Linked DNA regions of Homo sapiens. The protein of the gene in region 2 binds, or shares a complex with, the protein of the main gene of each other region. Each region holds a gene or a part of one and is shown on either strand. Other genes may lie near its edges. A codon is read from its position in the direction of its gene.

Region 1 (3,754 bases), on a different chromosome or scaffold from region 2:
TTATCTCCAGACATGAACACTAATAGCTTGGCTTTCAATTCCAGACAGGCAAGCTCAGCTTTGTCAACTGAAGACTTGTCCTACTACTTCAGAGGAATAAGACTGATAATTTAGGGATTTAAAAAGCTAACTCTGGAGTCAGCATTACTAATTATATGACCTTGGGCAAATTACTCAACCACTGGCAGACCTCCTTTCTAAATCTGATAAGTGCAATTCATATTGTATCCACCTCGTAGGGCTGCAGTGAGGATTAAATGGATTGAGGCATAAAAAGTACTTGTTAGGACAGTGCCTGGCACATAGTAAGCCTTAACTTTCAAAAGATATAAACACCTTCATAGAAACATAAGGTATGATGAGGAGGAGCGTATTATCTCATCCATTCTCTAGTGATCCCCCAGGAAAGGTTAACTTATAAAGTACTGTGTCTAGCTGCAAAGGTGCTAGTAGGATTATATACAGCAAAATGAAAGGAGGAGGAGGAGGTAAAATAAAATGTTAAGTTGTTGAACCAATACCCACTCATGACTGATTAAAGAAATCACAGATTACACAAACTGGAAAAACATCCCATATTCATGGATTGGAAGAATCAATATCATTAAAATGACCATATTCCCTGAAGGAATCTACAGATTCAACACAATTCCTATCAAACTATCAACATCATTCCTCATAGAATTAGAAAAAACAATCCTAAAGTTTATACAGAACCAAAAAAGAGCCCGAATAGCCAAAGCCAATCTTAACCAAAAAGAACAAAGTCAGAAGTATCACATTACCTGACTTCAAATTATATTACAAGGCTATAGTAACTAAAACAGCATGGTGCTGGTACCAAAAATAGACACAGAGAACAATGGAACAGAATAGAGAACCCAGAAACAAAGCCACATACCTATAACAAGCTGATCTTCAAAAAAGTCGACAAAAATAAAACAATGGGGAAAAGACTCTCTATTCAATAAATGGTGTTGTATGTGGCTAGCCACATACAGAAAAATGAAACTAGACCTCTATCTCTTACCATATACAAAAATTAACTGAAGATGGATTAAAGACTTAAATATAAGACCTGAAACTATAAAAGTCCTAGAAGAAAACCTAGAAAAAACTCTTCTGGGCATTGGCCTAGGCAAACAATTTATGACTAAGATGCCAAACGGAAAGTGCAACAAAAACAAAAATAGACAAATGGGACTTAATTAAACAAACAAAAAAAGCTTCTCCACAACATAAGAAATAATCAACAAACAGTCAACCTACAGAATGGGAGAAAATATTTGCAAATTATGCCCCCCAACAAAGGATTAATGTTCAGAATATACAAGGAACTCCAACAACTCAACAAGGAAAAAACAACCCCATTAAAAAGCAGGCAAAGGATATACATACAGACATTTCTCAAAATAAGGCATGCCAGTGTGGCCAATAATCATATGAAAAAATGCTTAACATCGTAATCATCAGAAAAATGAAGATTAAAACCACAGTGAGATATCATCTTACAGATGGCTATTACTAAAAAGTCAAAAAAGGCCGGGTGCAGTGGCTCATGCCTGCAATCCCAGCACTTTGAGAGGCCGAGGCAGGTGGATCATGAGGTCAGGAGATTGAGACCATCCTGGCTAACAGGGTGAAACCCCAACTCTACTACAAATACAAAAAATTTGCCGGGCATGGTGGTGGGTGCCTGTAGTCCCAGCTACTCGGGAGGCTGAGGCAGGAGAATGGCGGAACCCGGGAGGCGGAGCTTGCAGTGAGCCGAGATAGCGCCACTGCACTCTAGCCTGGGCAACAGAGTGAGACTTCATCTCAAAAAAAAAAAAAAAAAAAAAAAAGTTTAAAAAAAAAAAGACTTTAGCATGGTTGCAGAGAAAAGGGTATGCTTATACACTGTTGTGGAAATATAAATTAATACAACCTCTATGGAAAAACAGTATGGGGATTTCTCAAAGAACTCAAAATATAACTACCATTTGACCCAGCAATCCCACTACTGGGTATCTATGCAAAGGAAAAGAAATCATTATATTAAAAAGACATGTACAGTTATTATGTTTAAAGCAGCACTACTGACTACCACAAAGTCATATAATCAATCTAAGTATCCATCAATGGCTGATTAAAGAAAATATAGTATGTATACACCATGGAATCTTATGCAACCAAAAAAAGAGTGAAATCATGTCCTTTGCAGCAACATGGATGGAGCTGGAGGCCATAATCCTATGTGAGATAACCCAGAAACAAAAAATCAAATACTGCATGTTCTCACTTATATGTACAGGCTAAATAATGGGTATACATGGACATAAAGATGAGAACAATAGACACTGGGGATTCCAAAAGGGATAAGTCTGGGAGGAGGGTGAAAGTTGAAAAATTACCCATTGGGTTCAATGGTCACTATTTGCGTGATGGGTACACTAGAAGCCCAAACTCGACCATTATGCAATATATCCATGTAACAAACCTGCACATGTACCCTCTAAATCTAAAATAAAACAAAAAAATTTAAGGACCCACTTGTGAGCAAATCAGACACAGCCAGCACCCCGAGGTTCTCCCATACCTGCGCCACTGCGGCGGGTGCTCATGTCCGCCACGTATATCCATTCATTGGTCGCTGGGTTGTACTGCTCCACAGTGCTCAGACACTGGCGGGAAGCTCCATCATAACCCCCAACAGCATATAGCTTCCCTGCAATAGACAAAGTGGCTGAGTGTGGTGCCAGGGATACTGGCATGAAACCAGAGCTCAGCTGAAACCCTATCTGCAACCAACTGGGGCACCCTTACCTCAGAATTCTGTTCCCTCTTTCTCCAGGGGACCACCAACTTACTCCTCAACCAAGCAAAGCATCCTTCACATTTCTTCACATATTCTACTTGCTCTTAAGCCATGAGCTCCTTAGAAGCAAACACTTAACGTCTTTCTAAATAAGTACCCGCAAATACCCAGCACAAAGCTATGGCCTGGCACCACTGGGGCTCAACATAATCTTGCTGATGAATTAGGTTAAATTTTCTCTAGAACAAGACACCAGCACCAGATAGATGGAAAGCTAGAAGGCCCCCAGCTATAGGCAGGCAGACCATCTTTCTGGCTAAAGGCTTGACATAGCAGATGAAGTAAATATGGAAAATTATTATTCAATGAGAACCCAAAACCTGTCTTAGCCATTGTCTCTACCCCTTCCACAACCTTGGCAGGTAGAGTGTGTGAATGGAGTGTTCTTTGTACATTGTGGGCCAGGGTGGCTGGAATTTTTCTGCAGACTACCCTGTGATCTCTGAGCCATGCACAAGAGCCCTGAGGTGCCGTCATTTACTTTTAAATTAAAATACCATTAAGCTGCTACCCAAGAGCATCATTTCTGCCTGGGGCTGGGGGCTGAGGGCTGAGAGTGAGGTTGGACACAGGAGGAAAAATTTGGCATTTGAGCTATCCCAAAGCAGAAATTCAAACATTTTGGGTTTAAAATTTAGTCTTAAAATGCAATGGGATGGTCTCTTCTGTGGGAACAGGGGGAGGAGTCACACTAGCTGTAGACTAAATAAATATCACCAAATGCAAATCTATTTAACAGGATTACTTACTCAGTAGATTTTTTGGTCACATGTGCTTTCTTGATGGACAGACACCAAGAATACTACTAGTATTTGAAAATCTGCAATTATTTTAAGTTAGAAAGATTCTCAGGCTCAAACCTATACTCTGCTACCAGAACTACTGCTGTATTATCAA
Region 2 (3,754 bases):
GATACAGCTGAATACCAAGAGAGTGATCTGAAATTTAAAAAGAAAAAAAAAACTGAAGACATATCTGAGAACATAAGGTTTTAAAAAATGAAATTAAAAGTGAGAGCAAGCTGTTAAGAAACATGGGGAATAATCCAAGAGGCCATATATCTCCTACAATTTCTAAATGGAAATAAGCAAGACAATGAAGGGGAAGAAAAAAAAGAAATGAAAATAGTTACCGGAGCTGAAAAAAGACACAAATCTTCAAATTCGAAACATCCACAAAAGTGATATACAAAATGAATGGGAAAGTGATATACCAAGATACAGTCTGATAATCAGAGCTCTAAGATAGTTCCCTAAGAGCAACTAGACCTGTGCTAACTGAATACAGTAGCCACTAATCACATGTGGCTGTCTAAATTTAAATTAATTAAATTAAATTAAAAATTCAGGCCCTCAGTTGCACTAGTCACATTTCAAGTGCTCAATAGTCATATCTGGTTAGTGGTTACTGTATTGGATAGTGCAGATACAGAACATTTCCACGTTGTAAAAAGTACAAGAGCATTGCAGTGGTCTAGAGTAAAAACAGGTTACCTACAAATGAATGATAAACAACTGACATCACTCTCATCAGGAAGGCTAATAAAAGACAATAAAACACTGTCTTCTAAATTGAGAAGAAAAAATTCTGATCCTACCATCTGTACTTAGTCAATCAAGTGTGAAGCAATATAAAGACATTTTTGGACATGCAAAAGAATACCAAATAGGATACTCATGCAATATATTTGAAAATATTACTCATAGAAGTATTTTAGGGGAAAAAAGAAGAATTCCATGACACCAGAAACAGTGGCAGCTAAGTATGATCCAGATATAGCAACAGACACTTGAAACAAATAAATGAATTCATTTGACCTTGACACTTGGGAGAGTCTCCTTCAAGCAACAAAGTTTAAATGACAGAAATAACAGTTCATTTCTTAAGATTCGAATCACATTATGTGATATTTATTATTTAAAATAATTTAAAAAATTTTTAAATCTTTAAATTATATGTATCAGTGGAATATTATGCAGTTGTTTCAAAAAGTTGAGTAAGATGGAACTATGTGTACTGACATGGATAGATACCCATAAATGAAAAAAATGCAGAATAGCATATATGTAAATAAGTATATGTATATAAATATTAACATGTATCTATATCTATATAAAGATACAATATATCATATATAAAAAGTATGTCTTTATAAATATTTGTATATTAATTAAAATCATGTCTGGAAAGATTTGTTAACAGCTGTGTCTACAGGTTTGGGGATGGGGTGGATTTTACTTGTACGTAGTACATATATACTATGTACAAGTATATATTATTACTTATATAATAACAAAAATGACAAAAAGATACAGCAATAAAGATTTAGAAAGATGTCCATGATCTACTGTAAAATGAAAAAATTAAGTTGCAGAACAGTATGTATACAGCACAGTATTTTTATGAATATAATGTTATATGTATGTAAATAGATCTGTATAAGCTTAAGAAAAGTCAAGAAGAATAAGCATCAAATTATTAGTGGTTACTTTTGTGATTTGAAGGGGCAGAAAAGGAAAATTAAAGTTCCTACATTATATAACTCATAAAATAAGTCAGGCCAGGCACAGTGGCTCATGCCTGTAATCCCAGCACTTTGGAGGCCAAGGCAGGTGGATCACGAGGTCAAGAGTTCGAGACCAGCCTGGCCAACATGGTAAAACCCCGTCTCTACTAATACAACAATTAGCCGGGCGTGGTGGCACGTGCCTGTAATCCCAGCTACTCAGGAGGCTGAGGCAGGAGAATTACTTGAACCCGGGAGGCAGACCGAGATCATGCCACTGCACTCCAGCCTGGGCGACAGAGCAAGACTCCGTCTAGGGTTTAAAAAAAAAAAAAAGTCATGGTATTAATGATGATTTTTACTTTCTTTTCTTCTCTTTTTTTGTCAAATTAAATCCCCCCAAACATGATTAAATTAAAAACCATAACTTTTTTTTTTAAAGAAGGAAACGGATAACTGGCATTTTAAGTGAAAATCTAAAAGTTCTTCCTACCCACTAAAACAATCCATGAGTCAGTTTTCATTCTGTCATTAATACAAATATAGACACTGCTTGCAAGTTCTTAGCTAATTCACCAGAGGGCTCTCTTACCAAAGATAGTTTGTCATCTCTACTGAGAGGTTCTGAACACCTGCAGCCTAAGTCATAGCCTTCTTAAATACCTGTGACCTCAGCATCTTGTGACATAGACCATTTCATCTCAAAGGACAGAATTTTAGAAGAGAAGGCATTTCTTTAAAACAATAAGCAAAGAGTAAGGAATTGGTTAGAAAGAATGATACTTACATGTAAACACAATTCGCTGGGTACAGAAGTTATCACATTCAGGTCCCTTTTGAACACTGATATATTAGCAGGCTGACTTGCAGCCACATTGGACAGAAGCTTAGAGCCTGTCTGTTGGAAATTAGGGGATTGTACAGGGCTATCTTTAATTCCACAGTGACTGATGGCTATGACTTCTGTCACTGGACAGGAGAGGGTATCTTCAGCAGAGGAAGAAAATGGAGAGTCTATGCTTTGGGTATCCTTCTGACTCTCGGGATAGATGCTAGAGATGCTGTGCTCCTGATAGAGCAAGTTTCTTAATTTTTCATCCAGAGTTTTAATTCGGTTGTCTGCAAACTCCAGTTTTGGAGGTCTTTCTCCATCTGATTCCAGGACAGTAGTGGGTTGAAGGGTAGTTGGTTCAAGGCCAGGGGTCTGAGTGGGAATGACTGTCTTAGGAGAACTTGCTTCAGTGTTCACTGTAGTTTCTCCTTCTTGAGAAATAAACTCTGCATCCATAGCTGGCTGCTGTACTGATAAGGTTTGAGGCTTTTGATCAAATGCCAGAGTTGTAAGAGAGTTACCAGAAGTCTGAGTTGATTCGCCAGGATGGGACATAAGTGCATCAGCCTGACTGGCAGTTTGGTGACATGGATACACAGGTATGAATATGCTTGCTTGTTTGGTGAGTCCCTCACATTCAGCTGGAACTGCACGAACTGAAGTAGTAGAGTAACTGGAACTATTAGTAACTGGTGCCATTATCTGCCTGTTATCTTCCACTTGATAAAGTATAGCTGGCTGCTTGGTTTCTACACTAGCACATTCAGAAATCTTACCATCAACCACATCCTTGTGTTCTGATTTGGAGGTGAAAAGTGCACGGTGGCATGGATTATTTTCTATAGTGAGCAATGTGTCCCGTGATATTTCCTTATTACTTGTGTTTTTTGGACCTGGAACAATAATAAAGAATGGCTAAGCACGTACTGACGAGTACAAAGCACAGACTAGTACCCTAAGTCAAAAGGAACAGGAGGACAAAGGGGCAAATGAGAACCTGTGTGAAAGTACTCTCGTAAATAAGACTCAAAACACAGAATTCAACCTGTCAAGGGAAATAATGTTTTCCTTTTTTCTCATAAATATTAAATAGGAAATGGCTTAAGTTGTATCCTAATATTAATGTCTTCAAAAAAGCTTATGAAAATTCTCATAAGCATAAAATTCCCATGGAAACCAGTTAAAGATATCATATGTATTTTGCATCCCATCCTTTGAGTCTGGACAAAGCTGGCAGAGAAGAAAAGCTTACTAGGAAGTGGATGTCGGCCAGGAACCGCAGACATGGAATGCTGAAGAGAAGGAGGAGACTGAGTCTCACGGTTTC

Evidence for each region.
Region 1: the proteins of WNK3 (region 2) and KLHL3 are in contact, whole or in part, in a crystal structure (PDB 5NKP), measured with the Homo sapiens proteins. Residues at the interface, in NP_065973.2 of Homo sapiens: Glu537, Cys538, Glu539, Glu540, Thr541, Glu542, Val543, Asp544, Gln545, His546; in NP_059111.2 of Homo sapiens: Lys312, Arg339, Phe355, Gly357, Arg360, Thr386, Phe402, Gly404, Ser405, Gly407, Ser432, Ser433, Tyr449 (codon at 2,684), Gly451 (codon at 2,678), Arg454 (codon at 2,669), Cys456 (codon at 2,663), Ser481 (codon at 2,588), His498, Arg528, Tyr577.

Annotation. Positions count from the first base shown.
Region 1 is NC_000005.10:137,631,459-137,635,212, forward strand, and holds part of KLHL3 (kelch-like protein 3), read right to left. Parts: intron 2,708-3,754; coding exon 2,579-2,707; intron 1-2,578. UniProt on the Homo sapiens protein: Substrate-specific adapter of a BCR (BTB-CUL3-RBX1) E3 ubiquitin ligase complex that acts as a regulator of ion transport in the distal nephron.
Region 2 is NC_000023.11:54,246,315-54,250,068, forward strand, and holds part of WNK3 (serine/threonine-protein kinase WNK3), read right to left. Parts: coding exon 3,680-3,754; intron 3,321-3,679; coding exon 2,383-3,320; intron 1-2,382.